Homo sapiens: one gene and its partners. The protein of the gene in region 4 interacts with the protein of the main gene of each other region in a biochemical or structural test. Each region holds a gene or a part of one and is shown on either strand. Other genes may lie near its edges.

The links. The genes of interacting proteins can lie anywhere in the genome.
Region 1: the proteins of SNTB2 (region 4) and ABCC4 interact in a test that uses a peptide from one of them, tested with the Homo sapiens proteins (one large-scale study listed by IntAct).
Region 2: the proteins of SNTB2 (region 4) and SLC15A5 interact in a test that uses a peptide from one of them, tested with the Homo sapiens proteins (one large-scale study listed by IntAct).
Region 3: the proteins of SNTB2 (region 4) and RASSF6 interact in a test that uses a peptide from one of them, tested with the Homo sapiens proteins (one large-scale study listed by IntAct).

The regions. Positions count from the first base shown.
Region 1 is NC_000013.11:95,070,952-95,074,451, forward strand, and holds part of ABCC4 (ATP-binding cassette sub-family C member 4), read right to left. Parts: intron 3,374-3,500; coding exon 3,263-3,373; intron 2,354-3,262; coding exon 2,253-2,353; intron 903-2,252; coding exon 711-902; intron 1-710. UniProt on the Homo sapiens protein: ATP-dependent transporter of the ATP-binding cassette (ABC) family that actively extrudes physiological compounds and xenobiotics from cells.
Region 2 is NC_000012.12:16,239,686-16,243,185, forward strand, and holds part of SLC15A5 (solute carrier family 15 member 5), read right to left. Parts: intron 183-3,500; coding exon 1-182. UniProt on the Homo sapiens protein: Proton oligopeptide cotransporter.
Region 3 is NC_000004.12:73,617,637-73,621,657, forward strand, and holds the start of RASSF6 (ras association domain-containing protein 6), read right to left. Parts: upstream 2,801-4,021; 5' UTR 2,652-2,800; intron 1-2,651.
Region 4 is NC_000016.10:69,304,765-69,309,953, reverse strand, and holds the end of SNTB2 (beta-2-syntrophin), read right to left. Parts: 3' UTR 902-5,189; downstream 1-901. UniProt on the Homo sapiens protein: Adapter protein that binds to and probably organizes the subcellular localization of a variety of membrane proteins. May link various receptors to the actin cytoskeleton and the dystrophin glycoprotein complex.

The DNA of each region.
Region 1 (3,500 bases), on a different chromosome or scaffold from region 4:
ATGTTGTGGGAGGGACCCGGTGGGAGGTAATTGAATCATGGGGGCAGGTCTTTCCTGTGGTGTTCTCATGATAGTGAATAAGTATCATGAGATCTGATGGTTTTATAAGGGGAAGTTTCCCTGCACAAACTCTCTTTGCCTGCTGCCATCCATATAAGATGTGACTTGCTCCTCCTTGCCTGCCATCATGAGTCTGAGGCCTCCCCATCCATGTGGAACTTTAAGTCCATTAAACCTCTCTTTCTTCTGTAAATTGCCTAGTCTTGGGTATACCTTTATCAGCAGTGTGAAAACAGACTAATACAGGACCAAAGGATGGAGGAGGAGAAAGGCTGGAACAGAAGCTGCAGCAGTGGAGGGGAAGAGAAGGACTTGAGAAATGCAACAAAGTAAAAATCGACAGAATTAGACATAGGAGTGTTGGTGACACAAAGCCAGAGTTGACTTCCTGGAAAAATCCATGAGTAATTAGGTATCAAACAGAGTATCCTGGGTCACGTTAAGCTCCAGCCCTGAGGCCCGGGGCCCACCAACCACAGTAAAGCAGTTCACAGCAGGAAGAATGTTGGTATCCACATTCCATGGTTAGTTTCCAAGACAGGTTAACCTACGTATCACTGATCCCCTTCACACATCCACAAGGAAGACAACAAGCAGACATAGCACTAAATCTTCTGAAATTGAGAAGAGGCAAGATGCTTTAAACAAACCTTTTCTTGTGATTTAATGAGTGCTGTCAGATGCTTCAGTACCAGAGGCCCACCTGGACTGTACATGAAGTTCACATTGTCAAAGATTATCACTCCTTCATGGGGCCAGGCTGGTGGTGGGCGTTTCTGATATTCCCAAGGTGCTTCTTTTTCAAGGTCTGTGTATTCAATGACCCTTTCTACTGAGATCATCTGAAAGAAATATGACATCCCGAGGGGTTAGGAATGGAGGGTGTCATTTATGGATGTTAAGAGACTGTCAATGAAATGTTCTTCTTTCATACATAGTTGGTTAAGGAGAGAAGCAGGAGACAGACGAGGATGTTGATGACTTACAAATTTGGTTCATCATTGTGTAACACCTTCACTTACAACCACTTCCTTCAACATTAGGTTAAAAGAATGAGAGAAATGAATGCTTAGATTTTATTTATCCACTTCTCACACCTGTATTAAAGGCAAGAAAATTTTGTAAAGGAAAGGAATACTTAGAGCCACCAATCAAGAATCTTTTGCTGGCTGGGCGCGGTGGCTCATGCCTATAATCCCAGCACTTTGGGAGGCCGGGGCAGGTGGATCACCTAAGGTCAGGTGTTTGACACCAGCCTGGTCAACATGGTGAAACCCCATTTCTACTAAAAATACAAAAATTAGCTGGGCGTGGTGCTGCATGCCTGTAATCCCAGCTACTCAGGAGGCTGAGGCAGGAAAATCGCTTGAACCCGGGAGGCGGAGGTTGCAGTGAGCCAAGATCGCACTATTGCACTCCAGCCTGGGGTACAAGAGCAAAACTCTGTCCCCTCACCCCTACCCCCCAAAAAAGAATCTTTTGCTATAGAAGGATCACCTGATATAGGTCAGTTAAACTGGATGATCGTGAAACCTCACTGTAATAATTACTCAACTTTTGCTCTATGAGAAGAATGAAAAGATTTTTATGTTTATTGCTTTTCTCTCTTTAGGGGAAGGTGCAAATATTTAAAACATTGATTAAAGCCTCCTATACCACCATAAACTAATACCCTTTGACTAGCACATTCCAAGAGGAGGCTTTCTGTACCAAGAAGGCACACCAGCAAAGTTAAGGCCTTCCTCCCTTCTGTTCTTCACATAAGAGAGTAAACGCTAGAACTGGGAGAGGAGGAGACCTATTAATTAAATGTAAACAACCTCAAAATACTGAAGTCTTCTTTTAACAGGAATGAGGAATTACCCGTTAAGAAACAAAATTAAACAGGCTTCTAAGAAATTAGCTTATATCCTCTCTAGAATTTCAGAACCTCCCTCCTACAGAGACATTTATTACATCTGAAAAAGCTTGTGATGAATATAAAACCTGCTGACAGAGCAACCATAAGACTCAGAAAAAGATGTATATATTTTATTTTACATTAACTTTAAACAGATGGAGGAAGGATCTTAAAAAAAATCTGTTACCAAAGATGTAAAAATAACAGTTTTAATATTTCACATAAGAATGGCTTTTATACCATTTAATGGCAAGGAGATTGAAAAGGCAAAGAACGTGAAGGTAAATATTACCATATTCTCAACTTCAGCACTTTGTCGAACACACCACTGAAACATCCCCATGAGCGTGAGGGCATAGGACAGTGCCAAACCAACCTGCCCGGCATCCAGAGCTACGTAAGGAGGAAGAAGGGAATAAAGTCAGTCTCACTTCAAACCTAAGCCTGGCTCCTTCTGCCACTTACCAAGAGGAACCCTTCATAATGTTGAAACAATTCACATTTAATGACATTAATAGCTATACTTTTACCATTTGTTGCTTGAGATCAAGATACAATGGGGAAAACAACACTGTATATTTAGAAAAATTTTTAGATGATTTTATGAATTCCAACAGGATCGACATAGATTTAATTAACAGTATTACAAACGCAAGAAATAATGTCATTATTCAGACATTCATTATTATGGTTTCAAAGCTCATTACATTATTCCACTTTCTACGTGCAATGCAACCACAGCTGGAAACCACTAAAAACAAAGCAATAGGTTGTAAGTGCCAATGCTTTTGAGACTAAAATACTACTCTCCTTGTTCCATTATTAAGTATTGTAATGCACTGTTGTTACTGGGGTGGTGAACTCATGCCCTGCTTGTCTGGTACCCATGTGGCATTGAAGATAATACTCTCCTGCTGAGAATTTTTCTCAACCTCATGCACCAGGCAACTACAAACAATAGATTCAAGTAGTTGGAAGGCTAACACCCTAAGTTGGACAAAATGCTTCAGAATAAATTGGTTTTCTCTTCACAACTACCAGACACTAACAGGAATGTTCAGAATCTCAACTGCGCATATCTCAACCCATTCAAAGAAAGATAAACCCATCAAGACCCAAATGACTCCTTAAATGAGTCACACTGCTGAATCCTACCCAACCTGACACATCGTAAATGATTTAATACACTTCATTAGGACCAAACAGTATGTAGTAGTAGACAAGGTGGCAAGAGTTTAATAAATGTAAACACAGCTATAAATTGTAATCATACCATACATAGTTATTCACATCTGTACTTACTTTTTGCCAGAATCAGGGACCCAAAGGCAACGATGATGACAAACATGGCACAGATGGCATCCAGACGGACGGCAAACCAGCGGGACGTTGTCAAAAACAAGAACCAAGCCTCTGAATTTGAGAACGGTAATAAGCATGATGAATAAGTAGATGAATGTGCGAGTGTGTTTTGCTCAGTTGAGCTACAGAAGATTTTTACGTGGAGTAGGGCACCAAAGTTGCACACCCAAGGAACCTT
Region 2 (3,500 bases), on a different chromosome or scaffold from region 4:
CATGTTGACAGAAATGATCCAACTCTCTTAGAGGGAAACAGGCAGGTGCTGAAATACTCCAGAAAAGGAGCCAGAATTAGTAATGGTAGGCTGCTGATGGCATTCATTACTGCAATCGGCAGAAGAAATCCATCCAAATTCAGGTTGGAATTCATAGTTTGCAGATAATATCCTGAAGGAATCTGTATTCGAGAGGGAAACATCCATGCATTAAGACAGGGGTTTAACTTTGAAGAAAGCATCGTCCACCAGAGGCCTACCCTCTTGCACGTACTCTGTGATGGATGAGCTGGATGTTGCCTAGTTTTTCAAGTTCCCAGTTATGAGCTGATAAAGGGTCTTCATCTGTGGTGGTAGGAGCTCTGTCTAGTCTATTGACAATAGTACTCATTACTCATGAAATACTCTATCATCATTTAGTCTCTCTTAATTTTTCTATGAAAAGTAATGATGGCCCCAATTTTGTGCTTAAGATGACACATAAAAAGCCAAATAACTTAAATTCTGTAGATAAGCAAAATGACTTTTCTTCATGAACACTAATATAAAACCAGTAAAAAATACTAAAGACGTCTGTTTTTACCCTGATGAAAAAAATGAGGCTAGAATAGATTCTTTAAAAAGCATCTAGTTTGGTGGCAATATAGAAACGACTTTTTCCTAAGAAGAGGGGCCCAATGTGGACACGTGTTAATTGCTGTAGGCTGTCTTTGAGGGGGCTATTTAGAGAGGCTTTGTTTCCAATGTGAACTAAGTAACAGGGGGAGGAAAAAAAAACCTTGTGTCTTTGCCCTCCCTTCAAACTAATTACGTGATGCTAGAATTCCATAAAGGAAACAACATGAAAAAGGTTTGCATGATAAAGTGAAAGATACAATTTTTTTAAAAAAAAACCCTGTGCTCCACCCCAAATCCTCAATGTATTGTTAGAATTTCTTCATTTTAAAAATAACCCCAATGCTAACTAAAACTCTAACACTGATTTGGAGCCTCTTAGTGTATTCCAATCCTCTTGGCAACCGAGTGTGATATCAGAACCAAGGGATGATGTCACATGAAAGAGGTGTCTCTTCACTTTTCTAGTACATGAGCTTTGTTACAGCTTCATCAGCTTCATCATGATCTTTTTTATTTTTATTTTTTTTGAGACAGAGTCTCGCTCTGTCACCCAGGCTGGAGTGCAGTGGTGTGATCTCGGCTCACGGCAAGCTCCACCTCCCAGGTTCACGCCATTCTCCTGCCTCAGCCTTCCGAGTAGCTGAGACTACAGGCGCCCGCCACCACGCCTGGCTAATTTTTCTGTATTTTTAGTAGAGATGAGGTTTCACCGTGTTAGTCAGGATGGTCTCGATCTCCTGACCTCGTGATCTGCCTGCCTCAGCCTCTCAAAGTGCTGGGATTACAGGTGTGAGCCACCGTGCCCGGCCCATCATGATCTTTAGTAGCGCATAGTATTTCTTTAATTCCCAGTGGTACACAAAGCTATTGAGTGTCATAGACAGAAAGTCAACCAAGTCTTCTTGAGGAATGGATCCTCCAAACTCGTATGGTACAAGAGCTGCATTAGGATCCCTGCTTCACCACCATCCTGGGAGAGCAGCCTCGCTCAAATATCCAGATGATAACTTCTCATTTGAAACATTTGCTAACCCCTTCTCTAGACTCAATTGTACAATTCAAGAGGGTATATATGGAGAATCAGTATTATGGTGTCAGTACAGCTGTTACCAAGTCCACTAATTGTAAAATGAGCCTATTGCCATGTTAACTGCGCAAACACAGGACAAGACCACATTTTCACTGAGATTCTTTCTGTAGACAACGTGTCCTGGTGATCATTTATCTCCCAATCTTTAATTTGACCCTTAGCATAGTAAACAAGGATTGTTTTGGCTGAGTACAGATGGCAAGAGTTAAAGGAACATTAGTTAGTTCTGCCCTACTTCAATAAAATTATTAAGCATGGATCCCCCATCGGAGGAAAATGAATGATGTGTTTTAACAAAAAGTGCTGGCAGCGGAACAACTCTAAGACTGAAAGGCTCCCAGCACAACTTGGAAGTTTCTGTTACTGATTTCAAATGAGAATTATTGTTAATAGGAATAAAGTTATTATCGGCATGAATCACAGACACAGAAATATGTTAACTTAATAATGTGGCAAATGTACTATTAATCTTTAGTGAAGCAATATTAATATATTGCCTAATCTTAGAAAAGGCTGCAGTGTCTTGAAAGCTTGAAATCATTTCTGCCTCTGCCTGAAGTTCTGAAATCATCGCCCTGTAAAATTTTAAATACTTTTATTTCATCCAAGCCTTTGAGTATTCAGAAATAATTGCTGTCAATAGAGATTCATTCTCACCTTTGACTGGCCAGTAATGTCAAATGGCAACCTCATCAGCCGTAATATCAACATATTTTAGATGTATGTCTTGCAACTGAAGGTCAATAATGGCTACTAAATTTAAAATATGTATGAAATTCTATGATGTTTTATTCTTGGTACTTTGATTGCCTTTGTACTGGTGATTATTTCATCTGGGGGCAAAAAACTAAACCCAGCCTATCCTATTGGAAATTCCTCTGCCTCCCTGGTGAAGTATGATCTAAGCATTTTCTTTGAAGTTTCTAGCATAACATTACTGTATATAATTTTGGAATCTATGTAGTTTGTATCAGGGACTTTTAACCCAATGCAAGAGTGATATTGAGGATAATAAAGCATGGCGCTTGACACTAATCCTGAGGTGGGATGTTGCTCTGCCACACATTAGCAAGGTGACTGGGAACAAGTTGCAACTTAGTTTCTGAGCCTCAGATTTAGGAGAGTAATAGCCATGTAGCCTTGCTGTGGGGATTAAATTACGTACTGTGAAGCCATCTTTTAGAAGCTATGGCACTTAATAGGTGATCAGTAACTATTAGTTTCTGTGCTTTGCAATAAGTTGCACATCTAGATTTGGTGATATGCTTAAAAATTAGTTTATCAAAATTTATTGTAATTTATGTTCAATTAAAAAATATATGACAGTGTGCAAAGAAGGGTCCAACTTAGTGGAAAGAAATGTCAGGTGTCATTGCATTATGAAGGTAAGGAACTGGTATTCTGTGCTACTTGCACATAAGCTTTTGAGGTTAGCTATGGGCCATGTAGTAATTTTGTACTGTTTATCGGTTCCTCCAATCTAAGATGTTTTATTATATTAATGCTTACATATATGGGTAATATTTCTGCTGTATTCTGTTTTTGTGCCTACTGCTATTATAGAGTCAAGAGGGAGTTTGAATCTTCTAAATCAGACTAGCTTTCATGCATTATTTAGTCTAGAGGTCAAGAAATTTTCTGTAAAGGGCCAGATAGTAAATATGTCCACATATGGGTTCCGTGGCAATTACTCAACTCTGCTATTTTTGTGCATAAGCAGACATAGATACGACAAAACAAAGAGCATGGCTATGTTCTGATAAAACTTCATTTATGGACGCTAAAATTTAAA
Region 3 (4,021 bases), on a different chromosome or scaffold from region 4:
TTTAAGTTAACATCCTTATTACTTAAATAGGAGACACTTCATGTTCTACTCCTGAAAGCAGTGGTATTAGTTAAGTTTGGTTGTTGAGATTATGTTATGAAAGTGATGAAATCACTATAATTTATCATTTTAAACATACAAATTAATTTTTGCAACAGAATAACTCTCTAACTGTAATGTGAAAGGAAAATATTCAGAATTCCTTTCTCAGAGGTTTTGTTTTCAAATGGCCTATACTTGAATATTTTAAAAATCTAAGCTTTTATATGAAGCCCATGTAACTCTAGTAACCGTGAATTCCCCACCTACATTGCAATCAATGAATCTATATAAGCAAATGGACTGTCAGCATTGGGTTTCTATCTCAGTTAAAAGTAAAGGATCCTTCTTATTTTAGGAAATTAAAACAAGAATCAGGTATAGAACTTTTAATTACATGCTTAAAAGACTTGTTACATACATGTTACACTATTTTGAATATAACTGGAAAAGTTAATTTTTTCGTAATCATTGCTGGGTCTCTCTGTGTCACTCTTTTCTCTCTTTCTCTCTCTCTCTGATTGACCACAACATTTAATAGTTTATAATAAAATGTTATACACGTGAGAAATAGTAGAATAAATGTAAATTCAACACAATATTCTAATGTATAGATATAAAGTTGTTATCTATCTATCTATCTATCTAAACAGATTTTAACTAGAAAGACTTCCACCCAGTTACGGTTAAGTAGATTAATCTCAAATCAATTTCAAATATGGTTAAATAAATTTATCTCAATTGGGGCTACTATTCTTTATTTAGACATATGTCTATCAATAAATATAAAGGCAAATAACTTTGTTTAAGGATGTATAACAATATGGAAATTCAGCATAAAAGCATATTTCCTCTTTGAAAAATCTTTAATGAATATTGGAACCCTAACTTATTCTAATTCAATTTGATTCCTTTATAAGTTTTTAGCTAAACTGTACTAAACACAATCAGACCCCAGAGGGAAATAACATAGTAAACTTCAGTTAGGTTGGGTTTAGAATTCTATCCACAATTCTCCAGTCAATATCTAATTGTAAGCACACTGAAGAATTTCAACTCTGCAATTTGAAAAAAGAATCCATTAAAACACCAATGATATTAAGTTAGAGTATACTGCAAACTCTTTGACTGCTTTATTTAATAAAATAACAAGATAAAAATGAAGTCAATGGAAATTACTAGTCATAGACACTAAGTTGGTCCCCTCAAGAAAATTAGCAACATTAATAACTAACAACATTGACAAAAGTGCCCTTTAAGTGAAACTTCATAAAATAAAGCCACTTTCCTGTAATTTAAGCTTAAGAGGTAGAGACTGACAAAATACAAGTATTATTCCTTCATGTCTCTTGTCCATCAACACAAATTAAAAACAGCACTTCAATACAAACAATTCAATATGTGCTGAAATATAAAGACATGGATTATATGGTCTAAATTGATGAAAGTTATTCAAAAGCAGTCTCCTTTATAAAACCCAAATGGCATGAATTCCACAATATGAGATTGTGTGTAACTCTCTTACTCTAAAATTCTATTTTCTTTTTAGGAATAACAGATTAATGTAAATGTGAATTTTTCAAAAGAAAACTGATTGAGTAGCAAATATGTCTGAATTTGCCACCACATACTCTATCTGAAAAATGGAAAGAAGCCAGGTCATTTCGTTGCTACCCAGAGAGATGATCCTAGCACACCTGTCACCTGCTTGCCTGTCCTGGATCCAGTCTCCGGGAACCAGTTCAATTCCAGCATCCTAATACACACTGTCTGGTCTCCCTAGTTCAGCTTGCCCTCCCTGATAACGGCCCCTTTGGCAGAGCAGCTTATTCTTAATGCTAACAGTAGGTATCACTTACAGAACACTTGCTGACTGTTCAGTTCCCATCAAAGAAAGCCTTATGTGGCAGATCCTTTGATGATGCTTGTTTTACAGACAAACGTTTGGGGCTTAGGTTAAGAAACTTGAGAGGGGGCAAACTAATAAGTGGCAAAGCCGAGCTTTGAACCTACCACTCTTCTGCTTCAGAATTCATATCCTTAACTCATGCACTCCCATTTAATTATTTATGTTTATTATTTCATTGTTTGGTGAGCGCTTATATTGAAAATTCATTTTTTTTTTGGTGGGGGGCATGCTTTCTGTCACTTTGCAGAAACAAATAAAAGTTGAGCTGAACCCTCAATTAAGTTCTTTCCAGTGCGATGATTCAACACAATATTCTAACCATAAGGATACTCAGAGGAAGGAGTATGCCATCCAGAAGTCTAGTATCTTTGTAAGGCACGATTTTTGCCAGGCACAATTACAGGTGAAGGGCTCATTGAACTAAAGGGAGGAGGGGTCCTATGGTCACATTTACCTCCAAGCCCTTCTCTGCACCCTTTCCCTCCCTTCTTTCCCCTCTCTCCCTCCCACCCTACAAGCTTACCTTGGTTAGGAAAGCATATTCTGAGAAAATCAAAAGGAAAAGGCATGTGTGCGATTCAGGCTGCTATGACACACACACACTTAACTTTGTTGCCTATGGATTCTGCTTTCTAATAACTTGCCCTCAACATGACCCCAGGGAGTGGATTAGAAAGTTTTTTTCCCCATCCCCATTTTTTACCTGTTATTCACACTGTGAGCAGGAGGACCCTTTTCACCATCGTTGTTCGGCTGAACTTGCTTCGCGGTTTGTTCTCGGCTGGGTCAGGAACTCTGGTAGAGGGAAACCAGTGCCCTGTCTCTGCCGGGCTGGGACTCCGCGAGTCACTCACCTGTAGGGGAGGTCCGAGGCCCGCGCGGGCGCAGGGGCGGCGCCTGTCTCCTCCCAGAGCATGGCTCAGCTGGGCGCTTGCAGTGCCCCCGACGCGATCAGCGATCCTGGAGCCCCAGGAGCTGTTAATTATTTCTCCTTTTCGCCACAGCAGGGAAGTGTCAAGAAACCTGAGCCACTCCCTGTGCCTCAGTGCATGTTGGGAGTGTTTACTTTCTTAGGAACAGCTGATAGGTACACTCCTTTGCTCTCTGCCACACTTCTTGAGAAATGAATGGACATTCTAGTTAACGCTTTAACCACGGGATTTGACTGATGTTAATCTCTATTCTCTAGTCCACCCAGACTGTAGGTAATTGGCCTGTGAGAAATGACACCAACCAAGACTGAACGCCATTATTCACGTCTTTCTTTTTAAGATTTTTCTTTTCCAATTTGAGATTTGTTAACTTTCTTTTCCTTGTTATTTTGCTAACACATTTCCCTGCTAGCACTTTTTTTCACCCAGAGCAGCGTTTCGCGCTTCAGGGTGCACCAGGACCACCTATGTATTCTGCTAAACCCAGGTACCATCAACTGTGAGACTCTGATTTAGTAGGCCATGCATACACTTCGGGTATTTATATTTTTTATAAGCTCCACAGAAGAAACTGGTAGACATCAAAGTTTGAAAATGAACATAATGAAACAAAACAGAGGAGATAAATAATAATTTAGTCATTATCTACTGAATTGGATTTGGGGGCTTTGTTTTATCCAATATCTCCAATTTCAAAAGGACACCAAAAAGGCTTAGAAACTGTTAAATGACAGATGCTGTGGAAATATGAAGTACATTTACACACACACACACACACACACACACACAGATTTTTAAGGATCATTGTTATTTTACTGGTTTCCTATGTAAAGCAACTATTCATAATTTTTAAACATAATAGGTTATTTTACAAGTGTAAACCTGAGAGCCCTCAAAAGAAATTCAATCTGATTCCTGCAAAAAGTTCAGCAGGCAGAGTTAATTTCTAGTATCTTTCGTGTTCAAACGCCAGACAAACAGAATGACTCTAGATGTTCAGGTTGCATGTTTGTCATAGCACTTTAAGTAAGATCCTATATGTTCAAAAGGTGAGGCAGGCCAGGTGCAGTGACTCACGCCTGTAATCTCAGCACTTTGGGAGACCAAGGCTGGTGGATCACTTGAGCCCAGGAGTTCAAGA
Region 4 (5,189 bases):
GATCACTTGAGGTCAGGAGTTCAAGACCAGCCTGGCCAACATGGTGAAACCCTGTCTCTACTAAAAATACAAAATATTCGCCGGCCATGGTGGTGGGCACCTGTAATCCCAGCTACTTGGGAGGCTGAGACAGGAGAATCGCTTGAACCTGGGAGGCGGAGGTTGCAGTGAGCCAAGACCACGCCATTGCACTCCAGCCTGGGCGACAAGAGCGGAACTCCATCTCTAAATAAATAAATAAATACAAAGGAGAAAACAATGAGGACATTAGCTTGACTACGCGACCGAAGGGAACACCCCTGGTGGTGGGATGCGTGGCCCTCGTGTGTCTCTCCACATGATACCCTGAAGAGAGCATGGCATCGTGGCATCTCTGCCAAGAGTGTGTGACACAGCCTGGTTGTGAGGCAACACCGAATAGAGCCAGCTGGAGAGCTGTGCTGAACAATCAAAGCCTTGTGCTGAGACTCAGGCACATGCGAATTAGAGTAAGGCCGAGGAACATTCCAGACTGAAGAACTGAGACACGACGACAAAAGGCAAGAAAGTGGTATTGGCCAGGATCCAAGGCCAGAGAGGAAAACAGGACATGGCCGGGATGGCTGGCATCATTTGAATGGGGTCTATGGAATGAGTGGTGGTGTGCCAATGTTGATTTCTTGATTAGGAGGACTTTATGGTGGCAATGCAAGGACTGTCCTTATGTTTTGGAGGTCCTCACTAGAGAATTTAAGGGTGCTAGAGAATCATATTAGAGAAAGACAAGGTAATGGAATAAATATGGCAAAATGTTAACAACTGGAAGGTTTGGGTGAAGAAGATTTGTATTGTTTTTGTAACTTTCCTGTAGGTTCAAAACTATTTCAGCATTTTAAAAATTGGAAAAAAAAAACAACCCACGTGACTAAAGCAACTTTTTTATTTACAGTATAAAGGTTACAAAGGTATATATGTATTTATATATATAATACCCTTAAGTTACACATTTTCATTGTAATGTACAATGCTGTATGTTGATGTGCTACTCAAGGGGAAGTGTTGTTTATGCATCTATATTTATAGAGTATACATAAAGCTTTTTAAAATTAGGAACACAAATACTGCCCTGTTTTACGCGTTGGGTTTTTGATTTGGTATCCAGAAGATCTGAGACTTAAATTTCAAACAAGACTTAAAAAGAAGGCTTGTTTAAATACAGGGTTCTAAAAAGAAGGAAAAAACCCAGAACATCACATACTTTTAATTATTTGTAAAAGCATTATTCTAGTTTTCTAAGTCTTTATACTTAAAAATGAAAGCAGTGTGGAAAAGAATCCACATAAGCAGGTATCATCAGAGTTTGCACAGATTAGCCAAAACAGGCCTTCAATAGGTAGTGGTTTTCTACATTATCTTCCAAAAGACCTCAGGTTTGGTACCAAAAAGGACAGATTTTTCTGGGCACCAAGGTCTTATAATGCTGCACTCATCCAATGGATTGTAAACATAATACTGGAGTCGTATAGTGGAGGGAAAATTCTGAAACTTGTTCTTACGATAAGGGCAGATTTGCGACAAAGTGAGAATATCATCGAGAATGATGATCATGCCAAACCTGAAACTTAATTGACATCATCATTTCCTCTCCCCCCAATTCTATTAATTCACAAATCGAGGTGAAAAGACACAACTGACACCCGCTTTAACAGGACCCAGATAGAAGGAAAGACATTTCTTCCAACCTAGGAGGAACACACATTTACAATACTTATGTGCTGGTTTTAATAGTATACAATCATTAGCACCTGATTGTCAAAGGGTAGGTTTAAAGAACAAGACACTGAAGGCATGACCTAATTTTTGTGCACAACTCCAAGATACTTGAAAACCAAGGGGAGGGCACCCATGTGATTCGGTTTCCTGTGCCATTCCAATCACTGATAGCTCAGGTACTTTCTGGGCAATGACCAAGGATGTTGCCTGAAAAGCTAACCCTAGAGATAAATGGAAGGCAAGCTGGATAGAAAGGGACTGTTATTGTGTGAAAATTATGGAAAACATTCAGTCAGCCTTATTTTCTTTAGGTGCCCTTTTCATTGAGTCCAAATGCCAGCGTGTCCTGGAATAAGTGAAATTTTGTTAATTTTTATTTTTTAAATGTTAAAAGTTTTTTTTTTTTTTTTAATTTTTTAAATGGAGTCGGGGTCCCGCTGTGTTGCCCAGGCTGGTCTGGACCTCCTGGGCTAAAGTGATCCTCCTGCCTTGGCCTGATTTTGTTAATTTTTAAATATCTTCATTTTGATCTATCATTAATGGAGAAATATTCCGTCTACCATGTATATAAGGACTTTCAGCAGATGAAATGCTTAAATAGTTTAAGGGTGGAAATGAATACAGCAATTAGAAATAAGGGGTTGATAAAATATGCATTTAGTTTTGCTGTTACAGTTAAAGAAGCATTTTTTAAGAAAGACTTTCTCATTTATCTACTTTGTGCAATAAAACTTAATTTTTGTTGTTGTGATTTATCTTACAAAGGATACTGTATACTGTTCTCTTTCCCAAACTAAAGTCTAAATTTGCACTAAAAAAAAAATCATGCATGATGAAAAGACCAGCCTACTTAAATGTGCTTGGAGTCCTTTCATGTTGGCATGGATCAAAGCCTGAGTATCCCTTCAAACATTTTCCAGTTTGCCAGATCCAGATAAACAGACTTGTAAATATACTTTGGTAAAAATATGAAGTGATGAATTACTTAACTGCTGAATGATAAACAGATGGCATGGTGTGCTGAGAAATAACGGATTATGTGCTACTAGAGGGCAGGAACTTTCTTTTGGACCCTTCAGAATGCCTGGTGTAGAACTATACATTAATAAATGTTTATTAGATGAAAGAACACATGAATATGTCATTAATTAGCTTTCCAGTTTCAAAATTAGTGTCAATAGCATGGACGTAAGATTATTGCAAACTGAGAAAGGGACTTAGGGGACTCAGAAATTATAAATCTTTTTCTTCTTTTTCTTTTTTTGGAGATGAAGTCTCGCTCTGTTGCCCAGGCTGGAGTGCAATGGCATGATCTCAGCTCACTGCAACTTCTGCCTCCTGGGTTCAAGGGATTCTCCCACCTCAGCCTCCCGAGTAGCTGGGACCACAGGCGCGCACCACCATGCCCAGCTAACTTTTTGTATTTTTAGTAGAGATGGGGTTTCACCATGTTGGCCAGGCTGGTCTCAAACTCCTTACCTCAGGTGATCCACCCACCTTGGGCTCCCAAAGTACTGGGAATACAGGCATGAGCCACCGCACCCGGCCAGAAATTATAAATCTAACCAGGATTCCCAAACCTACAATACAATGAAATATCATTTCTCTCTTATAGGTTTTTGGTTTTAACCAATCTATTTTAAAAGGGGCAATTCAAGGATTATGGTTTATATGGTGGATTTCTGTTGAATATGATCAAATGTTCACTGGAGAACAAGCAATAATTTGCAAAAGGCATATTTATGCCTTACATTAAATGTGGATCCTCTTCTAAAACTAGAATAAGCATCAGTTCAGTCACCCAACGTGGGAAGAAAGAATAGAGGTGGCAAGAAATGAAGCTCAAGTTTGTTTTGAAACAAAAGAAGAAACTTATTAAAAGATTCTTCTGAGTTACTACATAACAACCATTCTTCTAGTTGGCAGTTTAGCTAGTCAGAGAGACAAAAAAAAACAAAACCAAAACCAAAAACAAAAACAGATGTCCTCTATGTGCCTATTTATTGTGCCTTATCCTTAACTTGAAATTCTATCCTTTAAGAGAATGAATTTGTGTCACTCATCTGCCAGATGTTTTTGTTTTTTTAGAGAAAGGTTTCAAATCAGCCACTTAAGCAGTCTATTACTAGTGTAAAATAAATTCCATTTAACATCACAGCATAGGAATAATGATATTGCTCAAAAATACAGAACCCTGATATATAGCATAATTATTTTAGAACTATCATCACACATTTATCGAGTGTCTATGTATCCAGCACAGTGAAAGATTTAGCTTAAAGGGTGGAGGCGGGCAGATTGCTACAATTGGTTTTTAAAGACAGTATGTGGAAAGTCAGAATAATTTTAGATTACCAAGCAATTAGGGGGCACAGAGAAAGAACAGCAGGAGATGGCAGACTGCTCTACTTCCATCTTCAGTGGGGTTAAAAAAAAAAAAAAGCCACAATAACAACAGAAATTTAACTGAAAGTGATGTCCAAACTCAAAGTAGAGTATAATACCACCTGGTAATTAATGTCATACCTGACAGAGATATATAAAAAGAATGAATGACTACAGTCAAATTCAACTTAAAGTTTAAGCAGAATCCCAAATTTAAGTAAGTCTCTTTTCATTACATAGATATTTGATCTGATCAGAGCAATTTGCTTTGAGACCAAAGAGATCTGGCATTTTACTTATTCATTAGGAATTGAAAAAAGAAGACCTTTGGCTTTCTAACCAGCCATTTCATTCATGGCATCAACAGCCGATGGCAGCCACATGGAAATGTATGCTGGATATTTGGATAGTTTAAATATTATGTACAAGGAATAGCTTATAACCAGTGAAAATAATAAGAACATAATTCAGCATAAGTGTCCAAGATAAGATACAAAAAAGCAGAGAAAGTGCTTGAGTCTACAGGTCTTCCCTGAAAGTTTCAAAAATGTTTAATTCTTAAGCAGGTAGGCCTTTTAATAGAATTTGCATAGCAGCATACAAGGTAATTTGCATTAAAATATATGAACAGAGATTCTTCCATGGCTTTGAAAACAAATATATCCACATGCATATAAGTTAAGCAAGAAGACCTGGAATTTCTCACAAAATTAAAAAAAAGAATCTATTATAACCTTTTCTCACACTTTCGCCCATCAAAACCATTTACAGCAAAACCTGTTTCTAGGAGAAACATAGCCTTGTCCAGATTCCACACAGCTTAATTTTTTTTTTAAGCATAATTTCTGGGGCCAGGTGCAGTGGCTCACATCTGTAATCCCAGCACTTTGGGAGGCTGAGGCAGAAGGACTGCTTGAGTGCCAAGAGTTCAAGACCAGCCTGGGCAACATGGCGAAAAAAAAAAAAGAAAAAAAAATCCATAAAAATTAGCCAGGTGTGGTGGCACACACCTGTGGTCCCAGCTACTCAGGAGGCTGAGGTGAAAGGATCAT